Linked DNA regions of Homo sapiens. The protein of the gene in region 1 purifies or fractionates together with the protein of each later gene. This does not show direct contact. Each region holds a gene or a part of one and is shown in the gene's direction. Other genes may lie near its edges. The genes, in order: TBL1X and KIF11.

Region 1 (3,824 bases):
GGGAGGAATCACACAGCCTTCCCCCTGCCCCCTTTCATCTGCACTGCCTTCTTGGTTCCTTTTGGCTTGGTTGACATTCAGGTGGATTTATACCCTCAAGTTCATTCCCCCTGTGGACTCAATGGTGATGAGCCCTGTTCACTGGCAAGGGGTCCACTGAGATCACAGGCTTCCCAGGGACCTCATGTGAACCACATCCTCTCAGGGAAGGAAGGGAAATGGTGGACCCTGCGTAGAGCCAACCCGACGCCAAGCCCAGCCCCACAGCCCTAGATAGCTCTCCGGGAAGCACGCATCTCAGCACTAGTGTCCAAGAGTCTCCGTTCCTGAAATCCTCGCTAGAAATAGTAATGGGTGGATTTGTAAAAAGAACACATCAATTATCAAAACAATGACATGATCAGTTAGGTACAGCCTGTTGTCAGGAACTCACTGAACTGTTTCAACCCTTTTTTATAAATCAAAGAAATCCTTAGGACTTTTCTTTTTTTTTTTTTTTTTTGGATCGGAGTTTCACTCTCGTCACCCAGGCTGGAGTACAGTGATGCCATCTCGGCCCACTGCGACCTCTGCCTCCCGGGTTTGAGCGATTCTCCTGCCTCAGCCTCCCGAGTAGCTGGGATTACAGGTGCGCACCACCACAGCCGGCTAACTTTTGTATTTTTAGTACAAACGGGGTCTCACCATGTTGGCCAGGCTGGTGTTGAACTCCTGACCCCAGGCAATCTACCCACCTCGGCCTCCCAAAGTGCTGGGATTACAGGCATGAGCCACCGCGCCCGGCCAAGAAATCCTTAGGAATTTTCTTAAGAGAAATCTTAAAGCCCACTTTAATCTTTCTCCAAGTATAAAAATACTTATCTGTAATACTGCCGACACACACCTTTCTCAGTTCATGGAACACCACCCTTTAAGGGGCCCAATTGAGCAGAGGATTTGGGACAGCCCTCCTGGTCTCGGTGTTCAGATTTCTCCTGCCTGTCACCATAGTGAATCATGAGTGAAGGCTTATTCGACTCTTTCTCTCTTTTTTATTTTTTAAAATTAATTTTTGTAGAGACGAAGTCTCACTGTGTTGCCCAGGCTAGTCTTGAACTCTTGGGCTCAATCCGTCCTCCCGCCTCGGCCTCCCAAAGTGCTGGGATTACAGGGTGAGCCACCTCGCCTGGCCTTATTCAACTCTTTCAAAGGCCTCAACTTCCCCTACCTCTTAGATTTGTCAAGTTAATGCTGTTTTAAACCGGAAACCAATGGTCTGTGGTGTTTTCCATTACATGTATATTATGCATTTCTTCTTTCAAATGTCCAAAAATACGTACATTTTAATGTCATGGCATATTATTACATTTAATCATGAATTACAGTCAATTTAATTGCTACTGGGGTGGGTGTATTCATTATGTTGTATTCATTCAGGTCCTCCAAAGAACAGACACCAGAACAGGATTAGATGGGCGAGAGATTTATTGGGGGAAAGAGCTGTGATGGAAACAGGGAGGAAGGTAGGGGGAAGGGAGAATTCAGACCATAAGGCCAGTCTGACCCTGGGAAGGAGACGGGAAGGGTAGGAAGAGTCAGGGATGGCCCTTACAGGTCTGTAGAAAGTTTTGGTCGTGCTGATGGAGAGTCCATGAGCCACTTACCCACCAGATGAGTCTGAGTCTCAGCAGGTGACTGCCATGGTCTCCCGCCTCCATCAGTCCTCAGCTGGGTGCAGCCTCAGAATCCACGCAAATGTGGCAGATTCCGCAGGCATAAGTAATCAGGTTCACTCCTCGTGGTGGGAAGTCCTAGAGGCACATCTCCATGGCCCCCAGAGTCCTTACTGAAAACCCTTAAATTTCACCATGCTTGAAAATGTTCATGACGAAACGTCAGGGCCGGAGGAGCGCACATTCCACACCTGCATCTGTCGCAGGCGCCCCTTGCGTTGTAAGTGACAGCTGCTTTGCTTTGCAGAGTGGAAATCTTGTCCACAGCTACCGAGGCACTGGCGGCATCTTCGAGGTGTGCTGGAACGCCCGAGGAGACAAAGTGGGTGCCAGCGCGTCCGACGGCTCTGTAAGCAACACCTCTGGTTTGCTGGGGAGTGGGGTGTTGGGGGCAGCTGATGCCTAAGTGAGCTTCCAGGGCGTGTGCAGCATTCGTGTCCTGAAGGGCCTAGCCCAGTGCCAAAGGAAGCTTCTGGGCTGGATCCCATCGGAGTTGGTACCACATCTGGGAATGGCCTTCTCCTTGTCCCTTCCAGAGTGTCCTTCTAGTCAACATTTTCTCAGTCAAATTGGTGGTTCTCAACCAGGGTGATTCTGCACCTCTAAGGACATTAGACAATATCTGGAGCCATTTTAGGTTGTCACTACAGTCATGTGTCGCTTAATGACGGGAACGTTTTGGGAAATGTGTCATTAGGCACTTTTATCTTTGTCTGAACATCATAGAGTGACTGACACAAACCTAGATGATAATACCTGTCCCACACCGAGGCTGTGTGGTACAGCCTATTGCTCCCAGGCTACAAACCTGGACAGCGGGTGACCATACTGATTCCTGTAGGCAACCAGAACACAATGGTAAGCATTTGTGCGTCCGGATCTATCTAAACATAGAAAAGGTTCAGCAGATATATGGTTATAATCTTACAGGACCACTGCGGTCTGTGCGGTGCGTTGTTGCTGGAAACGTCATTATGTGACGCGTGACTGTGCTTAGATGAGGATGCTGCTAAACCTCCTACTGTGCACAGGGTGGCCACAATTGTCACCCATGCTGTGGCTGAGAAGCCCGGGCCTCTGGTGGCCATCCTGCAGGTCTCCTGGGCCCTCTTCTCTTCCCATGGGGCATCTGGATTTCTTATTTTCCCCTGGACTTGAGGTTGCCCTGACCTCTGGGGCAAGCGGCCGTTCTGGCTGAACGGCCAAGGGTCAGAGTAGTCCCCAAATGTTGTCAGAGGCTGTGTACTTGGGCTCGTATTGTCATCTGCCCCACGATTGCAGGTGTCCCTTCTGGGACCTCTGCCACTCTGTTAATTCCTATCATTACCCTTAACCTGGCCTTTCTGCTCTGTGCTGTTTGCTTCAGTTTGCTCGGTCCGATGTCCAGATGCCAGTCTGTTATGAGAGCTTCTCTGACCCTTCATGACGATGTTCCAATAAACTTTACTGACAAACATCGGTGGAGGGCTAGATTGGGCGTGGGGGCCGTAGCTTGCCGACTTCTCACTCTAAAGGCATCTTTGTATTGTCTCTCAAGATGACAGGTGCTTTATCTTTCCTTCCAGGTGTGTGTTTTGGATCTGCGGAAGTAACCACAAAATATTATCGAAAAAAGAAAAGAATTCTAATGACCAGCCGTGAATGTGTAGGGTTGCAGCTCTATTCTCCAAAACTGTAGGAACTTGACTTGCGTTAGAGTGTACTCTGAAACCAACTCGTCTCTGGCCGCAGGAGTCTATATGTTTTCGTAATCTTCATCAAGAAGTTTTTAAAAGGCAAGCAAAAACAGAAGCAAATCATATCAAACGGGGATAGAATGGTTTCCACTGAGGACATTCAGCCTGGGAAGGAGGAAGTCACCAGCTCGAGGCGTGTGGATTGGTTTCCACCCGGAACAGGCTCTGTGATGGCTGAATGGAAAGAAACGTAAAAAGCTGTGCCAAAAAAAAAGCAAAATGCTGTGATAAACCAAACAGGGAAGGGGGAAAAACCCTCCTCCTTGGGATTTTTTTTTTTTGTTTTCCCTAACAATTTGGACACTACAATTGCTCTCACAAAGGAGGTTCAAAGACCAGTTTGTACCGATGAAACGCGCAACTTTGTAATCCCAAC
Region 2 (3,824 bases), on another chromosome or scaffold:
CTCCACTGTTTATTCTCTCCCAGAAAGATTATTTTCAAATGTATGGAACTAACTTTTGAAACCTTTTTCACTCATGTCTTGTAACATTAGGAGTAGCAGTTATTAGTGAGGCTTCTAATGACTAAAGGGCAAGTTTAGCACCACATGATATCAAGGGACTTGTTAGTTGGCCCAGAAATTGGCAAGTCACTCTTTCCCCAGGGGTCCTGGACCCAACCAGAAGGGGATATTGGGTAGCTGATTTTAAAACTACAGTAATATATGATAGTAATAATGGTGCAAGAAAAATATCTTAGAATTCTGGGGACACATATCACTTCTTAGGGTTAGATCTGTGTGGCCCCTTCTGGGCCATAACTATAAATCTTTTCTCCAGAGTTCTATGGAAGTCACTCATCTAATTGCACTTAATATTACCTCCTTCATACTTGATTTATATATAGTCTTTATTTTATAATTGTATGGTTGGTCTAGGAAGTTCTTAGCCATATAATTTATTTGTTTTCTTTGTGCAGAGTCTTTGCCTCCCTTTTTCAGCTTAACAATATTTATTAAACATTTTCCAAGTAAATACTACAAATGTTAGCTGACCCTCTGCCTCAATTCAGTGCTTAGATGACATTATTTGATAGGTTTTCTCAATCACCCAAATTTGACAAAATTAAAAGATATCCTGTCAGTACTAACTTTTCAAATATTGATTCATTCATTAAATGGTGGTCTGTATATATATAGGCATACTTCAGAGATATTGCAGGTTTGCTTCCAGACCACTGCAATAAAGTGAATATTACAATAAAGCAAGTCATGAATTTTTTGCTTTCCCGGTGCATATAAAGGTTATGTTGACCAGGCGCAGTGGCTCACACCTGTAATTCCAGCACACGCCTGGTGGGACAATCAGAACACAACGTTTATCAGTTACATTTGCTGTCTTATAGGGGTACAGTTTATGGTACCCCAAGACAATTACAATAGTAACATCAAAGATCATTGATCACAGTGTATAATGAAAAAGTTAGAAATACTGTAGTAGTTACCAACATGTGATGCAGAGACAGAAAGTGAGCACATGATATTTGAAAAAAGTCACTGATAGACGTGCTCAAGGTAGGGTTGCCACAAACCTTCAATTTGTAAAAATTTGGTATCTGTGACACATAGTAAGGTGAAGCACAATAAAATAAGCTATGCCTGAATTGATACATTTCTACTTACCAAGTTACAATTTTTGCTTGAATTAAAAGAAAAGAGGCATGTTGCTCTCACAAAATTAGTTGAAATTGGTATGCTAGCTCTTCTTTCCAAAAGAATGTCAGTAGACCTATAAGTATTTACTAATGTATTTCTGTTATACTTCCTCAGCCCTATCCTACCAAAAGGAGATTAGATCAGGATTTTTTTTCTTTTTATAAATATTTCCAATCTATACTACATTCTTAATTTCCCTATTTCTTGACAAGAACAACATCTTTCACAAGTTCTTCTGATACAATAGGATGTAAGTCATCTCAGATCTTCAAAGTTAAGTACTTCCAGCCCAAGGGCTAATCTTGATGACTACTTGGTCTCAGCCTTTTTGACTGGTAACCTAAACTTGTTTGAAATTTATTTTCTTAAAATATACCTGTAGGTTTTTAAAAATTTATTTTGTTTGGAGTGCTGAAATCTTATTAACTGTCATTTTCCTCTTTTGAATTCTTCTGACTTCTATTTCATTAAACTATTAAATAGTTCTGGCTGGGTGCGGTGGCTCATCTCAGCACTTTGGGAGGCCAAGGTGGGTGGATCACTTGAGGTCAGGAGTTCGAGACCAGCCTGGCCAACATGGTGAAACCCTGTCTTTACTGAAATACAAACATTAGCTAGGCGTGGTAGCAGGTGCCTGTAATCCCAGCTACTTGGGAGGCTGAGGCAGGTGAATCGCTTGAACCCAGGAGGCGGAGGTTGCAGTGAGCCAAGATCACGCCATTGCACTCCAGCCTGGGCCACGAGAGTGAAACTATATCTCAAAAAAAGAAAAAAAGAAATTCTGTGTTTTCACTGGGCTTGAAAAAAGAGAAATTATTATATTTATTGTAATATAATAAATTATTGTATTATTGTATTGATTTATCTATGTAGAGTATAAAAAATGGAGAATGGGGCCGGGCGCGGTGGCTCACGCCTGTAATCTCAGCACTTTGGGAGGCCACGGGGGGCGGATCACCTGAGGTCAGGAGTTCCAGACCAGCCTGGCCAACATGGCGAAACCCCATCTCTACTAAAAATACAAAAATTAGCTGGGTGTGGTGGCTCACACCTATAATCCCAGCTACTCCGGAGGCTGAGGCAGGAGAATCACTTGAACCCAGGAGGCAGAGGTTGCAGTGAGCCAAGATGTTGCCACTGTACTCCAACCTGGGTGACAGAATGAGACTCCGTCTCAAAAAAAAAAAAAAAAAAAAAGAATGGAGAATGGAAATGTAAATTTTAATGTGAATGTTTAGCTACCAAAGTATTTAAGATATCATTTAGAAAGGTTTACAGAAGTGGAAATATTCTTTTTAAAGACCTATTTGTTTATTTCTGAAACCAGAATGTACTCAAGACTGATCTTCTAAGTTCACTGGAAATGATTTTATCCCCAACTGTGGTGTCTATACTGAAAATCAATAGTCAACTAAAGCATATTTTCAAGACTTCATTGACAGTGGCCGATAAGGTAACAAATGCTATGTTCTTAATATCTCAAAATTGATGTGTTGTTTAAGAAGGAAACTCATTTTTGTTTCTTCAAAGATAGAAGATCAAAAAAAGGAACTAGATGGCTTTCTCAGTATACTGTGTAACAATCTACATGAACTACAAGAAAATACCATTTGTTCCTTGGTTGAGTCACAAAAGCAATGTGGAAACCTAACTGAAGACCTGAAGACAATAAAGCAGACCCATTCCCAGGTATGTTGTTTAGCGGACTTGGGGAGTACAGAAAGAGAGTTTTAGGATGATTTGATATGACTTGATAATTAATCTATGTTACACAATCTGAATACTGTAAAAGCTGAAACCTGAAAATACCATAGCCACTGTTGCTTATAACAGTAATTATTGTAGAACAATTGAGAATACTTCTCTTAATATTTGAAGTTTTGCTACATCTAGAACCCCATGCAGAACCACAATATGACAAAACAGTCCTTTTCTCACATCAAGATGAAAGATGAATCTGGAAAAACATACCTTTAGAGAAGAATGGTTATAACATTTAAAGTGAAAATGTATCTACATTAAAACCTGCTAAGTTGTTTCTAGGATGGCATGGATAGTTGTCTTTCATAAACCAAGTCCTACTTTCTCTTATTTCTGTCTCACTGATAGACATTTAAAACATAGTAAATCGATACAACTTTTAATTCTTATTGATTATAAATGTAATTCATGATTTATCTTCCCTGTAAACTGTTCCTCATTATATGAGGCTTTAAACCAAAACCAAGCCTTCAAACCATAATCTGTAAATATCAGATATCTGAAAAACAGCTTCTGGTATTCTTAAGACTTTAATAATGACTGTCTAAAGTTTTATTAAATGAGCTTATTATAATATGACAGAACTCTTATAATAGTTAACATTTATTGAGCAATTCACTGTGTTTATTCCTCCCATCAATATAGATATAAATTCTATTACTAGTCAGATTTTTAATGAGGAAACTGAGACCCTGTGAGCATCTAATAGTATGTAGATCATCTTGCAGAAGGTGGTAGTGATCATACTACCTGAAAAGCATCCATGTTTGAGTGGCTCTTTTGTGTGTTTTTTGGCAACTTAAAACTGCAGC

Evidence for each region.
Region 2: the proteins of TBL1X (region 1) and KIF11 fractionate together in Homo sapiens (co-fractionation; one large-scale study listed by BioGRID). This does not show direct contact.

The regions. Positions count from the first base shown.
Region 1 is NC_000023.11:9,712,943-9,716,766, forward strand, and holds part of TBL1X (F-box-like/WD repeat-containing protein TBL1X), read left to right. Parts: intron 1-1,959; coding exon 1,960-2,061; intron 2,062-3,277; coding exon 3,278-3,304; 3' UTR 3,305-3,824. UniProt on the Homo sapiens protein: F-box-like protein involved in the recruitment of the ubiquitin/19S proteasome complex to nuclear receptor-regulated transcription units. Plays an essential role in transcription activation mediated by nuclear receptors.
Region 2 is NC_000010.11:92,634,606-92,638,429, forward strand, and holds part of KIF11 (kinesin-like protein KIF11), read left to right. Parts: intron 1-2,578; coding exon 2,579-2,704; intron 2,705-2,781; coding exon 2,782-2,940; intron 2,941-3,824. UniProt on the Homo sapiens protein: Motor protein required for establishing a bipolar spindle and thus contributing to chromosome congression during mitosis. Required in non-mitotic cells for transport of secretory proteins from the Golgi complex to the cell surface.